Regions from separate parts of the Homo sapiens genome. Here region 1 is linked to region 2. The links come from fine-mapping of genetic effects on gene expression. A gene starts in region 2. The other region holds a variant in brackets. All regions are shown on one strand. Distances are from middle to middle.

Region 1 (5,263 bases), 33 kb after region 2:
AGGGGCCAGTTGGGAAAGTCTTTGAAGGGTCTTCAGAAAATGGACCAAAAGAAAAGAGGAAAAGTCATTCTACTGAGAGGTGTTTGTGTAATCAAAGCAACCGAGGCCTAAGAACTCACAAAAGATTAGAAAAGGGTAAAGGATGCCTGGAAAGCCGGACTAGGAAAAGGCTGTGAAGGGCCCTGAAGGTCACATGTCACATGTTGCCTGCAGCATGCAGAATCAAAACATGATAAATCATGTCTTGAATCATGACATATGAAGCATGACACACGAATCATGACATGTGACATGTTGAATGTCACATGTCACATGCCGTAGGCAGCCATCAAGAGTATTTGAAAGGAAAGTGTATAATCAGGCCTGTGCTTTAGTAAGACAATTTGTATAGTGTTCAGTGTGGATTAAAATGGAGAACACAGGTATCAGTTTGACATCGACAGTACAGGAAACCATTTGGGTTTCTTGTACACCAAAATATTAAAACATACACGCAAACACACCAACACATTAAAATCTTGAGAGAGAGGGCCAAAAGTTCTTTGTCGCTGGACTAAAAGTGGAAATAAATGTTTACAACCTCTAAGGTGGATTAAGCTAAGAATTTGGAGTTGTTGGCAAAACTGCCACATAAAATTTCAGACATGCAAAGAAATGCAATCGTAGACTTATGCACATACTTCCACCAGAGAAGGGAATCTGGGCAGAGTGTTCAAAGCTTAAGAAATTCCTTTGCTCTTCACCAAGAAGAGCCAACAGAGTTTTCGTTGAATCAACTCTTATATTCCCTTAAAAAGAAGTTGATAGTGTTGTGGAAAACTCACCCATTGAAGTGACAACAAAAACAGCAACCCAGTATGAGTTAACTGGTATTATGTTAAAGGGACAAGTAACTGCACTTTTGACACACATCCTCTAAAAGGTAGGGTGGGAGTGTTTCAAAGAACCAAGTCTGAGTAATAGAAAAGCATATACCACTTCCCCATATACACGTTCGAGCATGGGGGAGCAGGAAGCTGGGTAATTGAATGCAGTTGTGCACACTGGCAATTTTCCCGCCACATACCATTTCTTCGGTGTCTCTCCCAAAATTCTCCTCCTAAGTGGCACATCCCTTTATTGATCATCTTTCCCCATACTGATCATCCTCAGCAATCATGTGAGTTATTAGTCTAAGTATTTGTTTTTCTCAAATATGGTCTTTTAACTACTCCCTAAATATTTTATATATACATAGTTTGTTTTCCCAATTTAACTACAAGCATTTAAAAAATGGGAATATTTGTCTATATTTCTGTAATTTTTCATCATGCCTTATATGGTATATAAAGATCAACAGCAATAAAACAACAACAGTAATAATAGCTAAGACCTTTTGAATACTAACTGTATGTTCAGCATTATTTCAACAGCTTTACAGGTATTAACTGATTTAATTATTACAACAACGGCATGAAGTAGATACTACTGTTGTCATCAGTTTATACTTGAGGAAACTGAGTTATGGGATGGTTAATTATCTTTTCCATGGTCACAGAGCCATTAAATGTATGATCTCAGACAGTCTGACACCTGAGCTGTGCTTCAATGTACCTGTTAAGATATTCTTTTTCTTGAATTCAAATTCTGAAAGGAAAACAGAGTTGAAAAATCAGAGGCCCTAGCTAATCAAGTAAAGTTTTGCTTTAAAAACAGCAAAAAACAATCTTCCTAAGGTCTCTGCAACATTTTGTGGCCCATCACAGAACAGGGTCATCTTTGACTTCTACACCAAGGAAAATGTGGCTTTTGGATTCTTGGACAGAATCTACTGCATGGCCTCTATCTTCATATGCCCTTGCTGGGATCCGAAGATAATATGAATAAAGTAGATATAGTGGAAGTGAGTAGAAGAAACATCCTGAACAAAAAACACTTGTTCCACTTGGCCAGCTACCTATATTCTCATCAAGGGAGAGTTGGCCACAGGTAATACCACATCAAAGTGCAAACTCTGGATCAACTTGCACTTTTACTTATTCCTACCTTTGACACACACATAGCATA[A/C]CATGTATAATTCTTATTCTGGGCATAGTTGGTGGTAGGAAGGTTTTTATACATTTGAGATTCTATTTGGTGAGCATATGGTAACAACACAAGAAATGTGCCATCAGACTACTGTTCATCAGCTTACGAAGATGGCTACAACAATTCTTATGATTCTTGTGCACATGTTTCTTTGCCATGCAACTTTGTCACCCCTTCCCATCAAGACATAGAGTCCATTTCTTTTTCCCTTTAATTTGGCCCTGTGACTTGCCTAAAACCAACAGAAGGCTGCAGAAGGGACATCATATGACTTCAGGGTCTCAGCACCAAAAGGCCTTTCAGCTTCTGCTTTCAGGCTGTCATTGCTGTGAGATAGGAAGCCTGGGCCAGCCTCCATGAGAATGAGAGACCACACCTGGTCAACAAGGAGAGCCAACCTTCAGCCATGTGAGTGAGACCATCCAGCCTCAGTTAAGCTGCCAGATGACTGAAGCCAGATAAGTGGCCCCAGGCAAGACCAGCAAAACAGCCAACTGGCTGAGCCCAGCCCAAATTGCTAAGGCATAGCAATTTAGGACAAGATAAATTCTTGTGTTTTAAATCAGGATTTGTTATGGAGAAATGGATAACTGATAAAGCTCCAAATCCTAACTGAGACAAGAAATTCAACACCTTTTATATTACCATGATACAAACATTATTTTCTTAATAGTCATCATTAAAGCTTTGTATGTTTAACTGCCCTTCCACTACTACAACAGCTACTGTGCTGGTGCATTCACATTCATGCATACACATAAAGACACATTCTCCAGTTTCCCAACTAGTTACTCATATACTCTTTTGGGCTTTCATTTCTCAATATTGCTATATTTCCAGCTCAGTCCGTTTAACTAGCTTCATTCCCATATATCCAGCTCTTCCTGTCTATGAAGAGTAGCTTACCATTACTTACTATGTGCCAGGAACTGTTTCTCACTATCACTTTATCAGGCAGATAGTTCTCTATCAATAACTACTGAACAGATGACTTCATCTAGTCAACCATGACATTAGAATCAATCGCAAGATAGAGATAGGAATCAAAGAGAAGAGATAAATATGTTACCCTTATTACTTATTTTTAAAATATTTATATTGGAAAATACGATTGCGACACCTACTAACCCACACAAACACAAGAACATTTGGGCAACCACAGGCCTCCTCCAATGCAGATTGGTGTGTGAAAAACTTACAGCATGGAGGATTAAAAAATGTATATTCTCTGAAGGCAGATATGCCCTTCCAGATACAAGAAAATGAATGAACCATTAATGCTGAGTTCTTTCTCCCAAGCTGACCAATCAGTTGTGACGATTCCTCTCCCCTAGGAATAGTCACTCTTGAGAAGTCACAATTGTAACATCGATGGAGGTTTCCTATAGAAACATAAAGACTGGGGATTATGTGTTTCCCCTATAACAAATTTTGTCCTTATCTTGTGACTTTCCATTATGTTTCCAGCCTCAACATCTTCCCTAAGCCTCAGAATTATATGTACACCTGTCTATTCAGTCTCTGCTTGGAAGCCTAATGGGTATTTCGAACTCAATATGTCGAAGAGGATACTCCTCATTTTTTTTTTTAACTATCTCTTCACTCCTCTTTAGTTTGCTAGGGTTGCCATAACAAAATAAGGCTGGGAAACTTAAACAGCAGAATTTTATCCTCTCACAGTTCTAGAGGCTGGAAGTCCAAGATCAAGGAGCCAGCAGTGGTTTCTCCTGGTATCTCTCTCCTTGGATAACTTCTCACTATGTCCTCACATGGCCTTTTCTTTGCACACACATATCTCTGGTGTCTCTTCCTTCTTATAAGGAATCAACCATATTGAATTAGAGACCCACTCTTATGATCTCATTTAACCTTAATTACCTCCTTAAAGGCCCTATCTCCAAATATAGTCACATTAGAGGTTAGGGCTTCAGTACAGGAATTTTAGGGGTAGGGCACAATTCAGTTCCTAACAACCCCTCTCACAATCTTTCCTATTTTAGGAAATGGCACCACCACTGATTAATTGCTTAGGCTAAATTTTAGGAATCATCTAAGATTCCTCTTCCCCTCATACCCCACATCCAATCCATTAGGAAGTTATGTGTGTTTTACCAATTTCATATCCCACCACCTCCACTATGGACTCCAGGTTTTGCCATCTTGTTCTGCCTGCTCTACTGTAATAGTCTCCTAAATGGTTATACTGGTTCCTTTCCTGCCCTGCTACAGTCCATTTCTCACACATCCACCAGAGTCAATCAGATACCATTGAAAGTAAATCAGATACCATTGCTTCCCTAATTTGCAATCTCTAGTGACTTCTCATTATGCTTAGAATAAAACTCAACTCCATTTTACAACCCACATTCATCTACCCTTGCCCACCTCACCATCCTTACTACATATCACTCTTCCCCATCATTCACTCAACTCCAGTCACTTTGGCTGCCTTGACTTTCTTCAAGCATCCAAAGCTCACTTTGGTGTCACAACCATTGCATGTGTTCGTCCTTGTCCATCCACCTGGAACTCTCTGGATGTGTCTCCCCCCTTTTCATTTCACTGATATCTCTGCTCAAATGTAACTTTCTTAATAGAGCTTTCCTAACTCTATTTTAAACACACCTCATGACTTTCAACTCCTTTACCTTCCTTTATTTACTTTCAAAATATTTACAACTGCTTGAAATTACATTGCATTTTTATTTGTTTATTGTCTAGTCTTCTCCACTAGGTTGTAAACTTCCTGAGACTTTTTGTTTCTTGCTGTACCTGTAGCACTGAGAAGGGTCCTTGAAACAAAACAGACCCTCAACACATATGCATTGAATGAAAATAATTTATGCAATCTAAATCATTCTGATTTGGAAATTTGATCATGCCACTTCCCATCTTAAGCTCTCCAATGGCTTCTCATTCCTCTGTGGATAGACTTGAAGCATCCAATATGGTGTACGAGACCTTCCTAATTTTCAGTTTTACCTCTAGCAACTCCCACCATGCAGCTTGAGCTCCAGTCCTCCCTAACCTTTATGAAGACTAGAACTGTGCTGCTTCATCTTGTAATCCCTGGAGTCTAGCACAATACCTGACACAAAATGGTTACAAAGCAGCTGGCATTAAGTGGCAGGAATTATGCTATAAAACAGAGAGTGTATAGAGTCTTGATTTTACATTTCACTAGCTGGTTACTTTA
Region 2 (5,503 bases):
GACTAGGAAATGATGTCCTGAAATCCCTCCTGTTTGGTCAGTGTTTCCCATGGGATAATAGATAAGAGGACAGCTTGATTACCCTATTTTTTTTTTTTTTTTTTTTTTTTTTGGCCTCTGAGGTCCACCTTTAGGAACACCTTTAATCATAAATTCTTAACACTTTACCTCCTCCAGGTAGAATAGTAAAATTTCTCCTCTTGTTCTTGAGACCTTTTCCAGGCTTTCCTTATAACATTCATCATGTACTAATCAATTTGCTTATTCATGCTTTCCTTTGTAATTCAACTGAAGTCCAGAATTTTCTTTTGTCTTTGTATCTCCAATGCCTAATATACTGACTGACACATGTCGGGGAGGGACTTAGTGGGAGATGACTGGATCATGGGGGCGGTTTCCCCATGCTGTTCTCCTGATAGTGAGTGAGTTCTCACAAGATCTAATGGTTTTATAAGGGACTCTTCCCCCTTCACTCTCTCTCTCTCTTTCCTGCTGCCTTGTGAAGAAGGTGCTTGCTTCCCCTTCTCCTTCCACCATGATTGTAGATTTACTGAGTCCTCCCCAGCCATGTGGAACTGTGAGTCAATTAAACCTCTTTCCTTTTAAATTACCCAGTCTTGGGTGTTTATAGCAGTGGGAAAACAGACTAATGTATCAACATATGCAAATAGAATTTGCATATGTTGGAGACAGAAAATCTCTCTCTCTCTCTCTCTCTCTTTCCCTCTTTCTCTTTCTCTCCTATTAATTCAATTAATTTTCTCAAGAACCAAGTGAGGAACGTGCTCCTATTGCCCACATTTTGCAAAAAACACTGAGATTTAACAAAACGAAGTATCTTGCCCCAAGTCACCCATCTAAGAAGTGGAAGAGCCAGTCAAGGCCTTGGTCTGCCCGTGCCTGCCAGTGCTCTTGATAACACAATATGGAAAGTGCCCTTTAACAATGATTGGCAGTCAGTTAATTACTTTAGGATTTCATTCTAACCTTAGAAAATCTTCCCTCTCCTTTTCCAATAACGGATATAAAATAGAGGAACCTCATTTGTGTTGAGGACAGGAACCCGACACTTCTATCTGTGTCAATAGTCTCTGGCTCAGTGACTACCATATATGGGTGCTCAGTAAATCCGTAGGAGCCCAATACAGGACATGTTCAATCTTTATGCTAGAGGTGTCTTGGGCACAGAGGGCCAGGATGACCTTTCCAAGATCAAACCCATGCCTCTTGGCTCAAACCCTAATCCATCTCTAGAACCTGGGGATGTATATTATATAATGTTCTATAAACTTTATATAATTTGTCCTCATGATACTTGCTTGGGTAAGTATGAGAATTATTTCCATTCACATGAAAAAAAGGTGGTCTTGGAGAAATGCTAAATGACTTGCCCAAGTTCACATAGCTAGTAAGTGGCAGAGCTAAACTTTAGACCCAGGTTTCTTTCTCCCCAGCCCCTCTGCATTTTCTCCAGCGTAGTCTACCAACAAATCAGCACTGTTTACTTGGAGATTTTCAAACTGGCTGCAACGTGACCTGTTGAGGCCACACACATATAAAAGAGGGAGGGAGCTGTATTCTTTACTCTGTGCCAGATTTTGCTCAGATATGAAAATAAAGCTACTGAAAACTGTAGAACAGAAGCTGTTGACACTTTTTCCTCAAAGACTGGTAATAGGTCTTCAAGAATCCAGACACATGTTGCAGTCCAGTTTATCTACAGCCAAGAGTGTATTTACAGGATAGCAATTAGCTGTGGTCTCTCCAGTCAAGGAACAGGATTAACCTAATTAGCCACTAATGTCACCAAATGCATGACCTGAAAAGGCAGGCAGGGGCTGCCCAAGCTGGAATAGCCAGCCACCAACAGTAGTTTAGAGTACCTCATACAGAGGAGGAGACTTATTTCAGTAGCATTTCAATTAAACACATCACTAAATCATACAGACACATGCAAATATAAAAATGCAAATTTGAAATACAACACTTTCTTGTAGGTGATTTTGGGACTGAAACAGGGGACTGAAACTTCACACAACCACTGTTTTGTCTCCGGTGGATTCCTAGGGAGTATCTCAGTGCCTTGCACTCAATACTGTTTACTGAGTAAAGGAATCAATGAGTACAAACATGATCTTATGAAAGCAAAATCACTTATAAAGCTACATACATCTCTAATTCTCATTTGGTTTTAACTTCCCCATTGCAATTAAAAGTCTACCTTCATTTCCACGCATATCAACCAATATCCCCCAAAAAGAAAGTTGCATGAAAAAAGTTGCATGAAAAAAACAGAAAAGTTGCATTAAAAAAACAGAATTCCCACCGTGTCCCAGATTTTCCAAATAATCCTGCCATTCGGAAGCCTGTTCATAGCCCCAAAGTACTGAAAGGCCTTGCAAAATGCTCATAGGTGGAACAGCAGGAAGCATCTAGAGCCATCTCAGAGGGAGCCTTCTGCTTCCAGAAATAAATTCACACATTCACAGGTGCTTCCTGTTTTTTCAAACACCTTGCCCACCTTCTGCACACCAAGCGTGGATTCTGCAAAACGTGAGCCCAACAGGAAGCTGCCTGCAATTTCAGGTAGCTTTTCTGACTCTTAAAGAGATCTCAAGTATACCTTCAGAGAAATGCCAGCAAAAACTGTAGTCATTTGGGAAGGAATAAGCCTGGAAGAAAAAGATACAACGAACTAGCACAACGAGGGTGAGAACATTTTTCATGAAAATGCTGTTTGTAAATTACATTTTTAAACAAATAAATGTGTTTTCTTTAGGTTTTTAGCTCCTGTGGGTGGAATTAGGAGAACCAACTGTAAGTGGGTGGTGTTTGTCATATCTCTGCTGTGAGGGAGGAAGAAGAAGGAGGAAGGCTGGGGTGGAGAGGAGGAAGGAGACCCGCATGGCTGGAATGTCTCCACTGAGCTCAGGGGGATGAATTCCTCTGAGACTTCTTCTATTTCAGGAAGCTCACAAACCCTTCCTGAGATCTCAGAATAACCTTGAAATGAACATGTAGAACATTGATTAAGTTGTGAGAGTGTTCACAGTAAGCTTTGATTGAACTATTCTAGGGAATTTCTTCTTAACATGGTCACAGGTGGATGAGTTGGGAAGAAAATGCCATGGGCGCCGTACTCAGTTTTAAAATGAATTCAGAGAAGTTGTTCAAGGTGGTGAGTGCCATGTCACATATCATAGGTCTTGGATAATTTAGGGTGATTTTTTAATTGTAATTAAAACTACTAATTGCATAATTACTGCTAACACTACTGGTTCAGTTCCAAGTATGTATTCTTACATTTGCTTTTGTTTTGTTCTGTATTTTCCCAGCCATATTGCCAAATTAAGTTAAATCACGTAAATAATTTTGCTTATTAAATTGACTTCTTAATGTTCTTTTTTTCTGAAATGAAACTAAAAACAATATCTACAAAGTCAAGCTTATTCAACTTAACTGGTAAAAGGGCTGCATGGGAGAATGTTTCTCAGCTGAAATTCAAAGAAATGTCTTTAACCTACAATGGTCAGAACTGGTCCATATAAATCCTCTCTGAGCTCACCTTTGGCAGTGAATTAAGGGAACAAAGTTAAGAGCGATTAGCTTTGTTTTGCTTGTAGTAACAAAAATAGAAACATCTGAACATCTTATATGACCAATAGAAGCTTTCTAATCCTTTTTTAAAGGAAACTTTATACACCTAAGGGTTTGAAATACATTAATACTTTTTTTTTTTTTGAGATGGAGTCTCGCACTGTCGACCGGGCTGGAGTGCAGTGGCGCGATCTCAGCTCACTGCAACCTCCGCCTCCTGACTTCAAGTGATTCTCCTGCCTCAGCCTCCCAATGGCTGGGATTACAGGTGCCTGTCACCATGCCCAGCTAATTTTTTGTATTTTTAGTAGAGATGGGGTTTCCCTATGTTGGCCAAGCTGGTCTCAAACTCCTGACCTCGTGATCCGCCCGCCTCGGCCTCTCAAAGTGCTGGGATTACAGGCATGAGCCACCGCTACATAAATAATTTTTTTTTAACTTTAAACTCTGTTCTACACAAGAAATTATTTATCTTCCACCTGCCCTATGTGGTTTGGTGAAGCACCATGTCACCATGTGCATATGGCTATTAAAGATCCAATATGAACATGCTATAGTTTCAAACAAGTTGCTGTCCAGAAAGAACCTGACATCCTCTCGGGACACACACATATCACAGTAAAATGATACCAGATAATGGCAAAGGAGGGATGGAGTCTAGACTTGGTCCTATTATTTACCAAGTATCTCTAGGTTTCCATTTTCTCATTAGCAAAAAGAGGAAATTGGATTATGTGTTCTGTAAAACTGCTCCTAGCTTTAAAGTGTATTGATTATTAGGTTTTAAGAAGATCTGAAATAAAAGACGGCACATGCTAAGTGGCAGATGAGCTGCTATAATGGTTCTGAAAAGGAAGTGACTGCATAGGGTTGGAGCATCTGGGAAAGCCCCCGTGGGGTTGAGAGGTGTGGCTGGCTCTAGAAAATGGGCAGAACCTAAGAAGGTAGAGATGAGGGGGAGCAGTTCACAGGGCACACTCAGGAGACCAGGGGATGCTCGACTGTGGCTAGATCCAGACAGACCCCCGATGCACATGTGAGTGCTAGAGAAAATCTTGTTTCTTGCCACCTTAATGAATGAGGATAATAAGATCACTTGTGGGAAAGTTTTAGTAGCTAAGACTGCTGATCCAATGGGCAAAGCATCTTCAAAGGAAAGCCCGCAAGATGGGCCATGTTAAACCCAGAACTTTTGCCAAGGCTCTTTGGCTTCTCCGCACCAGGGAGGTCTCAGTCAGTACTTCGTACTGCAACTATGCCCTCACATGACTCCTCTCTTTTAAATAGCTGGAAGTCTCTTAAACAGGTTCAAAAAACAAGACTTCCTAATACAAAACCAAACAAATTCTGCCATCTCTTAGCTCTGTGACCTTGAAAAGTTTGTTTTAAATGAAATAGCTCAAGGATAGAGAAAATTATCTAGAATGAAATAATAAGTGTCCATATGCTTGTCATCCAGCTTTGTTACATGTTATTGCTCTTAGTTATTTTCTCATAGTTATTTCAGATTTTTCACAAGGAAAGAAAGGTTAAAGTTGACTCTAATTATGTACTACCTTTCAAGCCAATTCTCTTCCTCTCTCTCTCTTTCTCTTTCTCTCTGTCTCTGTATCCAGGAGTAAACACATTTTGAATTTGATGTTTATCTTCCCGTGATGTTTCTGTATTTATGCTCCATAGACACCTACAAATAATATTGAGTATTGTTTTGTGTCCCTAGATGTTATATGAATGGTATCATACTTTGCATTTCTTTTAATATCTGGCTTTGGTAATTCACCATTAAATTGTTGAGGTTTATCCATGTTGATACACATTATTTTCACTGCTACATAGTATTCCACTGAATCATTATTCCAAAATTTATCAATCTATTTTCTTGTTAGTGGAATCTTGGGTTGTTTAA

The links.
Region 1: its variant is fine-mapped to the expression of IFNG-AS1 in whole blood (INTERVAL, PIP above 0.99).

What each region holds. Positions count from the first base shown.
Region 1 is chr12:68,019,950-68,025,212 of GRCh38, forward strand. IFNG-AS1 (IFNG regulatory antisense RNA 1) reads left to right here. Exons shown (of 4, transcript NR_104125.3): 4 at 1-1,364. Among named protein-coding and RNA genes, the nearest start is that of IFNG-AS1, 33 kb to the left of the region's middle. The variant A/C (reference allele first, on the strand shown) is at 2,047.
Region 2 is chr12:67,986,871-67,992,373 of GRCh38, forward strand. It overlaps IFNG-AS1 (IFNG regulatory antisense RNA 1), which reads left to right and starts at 2,577. Exons shown (of 4, transcript NR_104125.3): 1 at 2,577-2,709.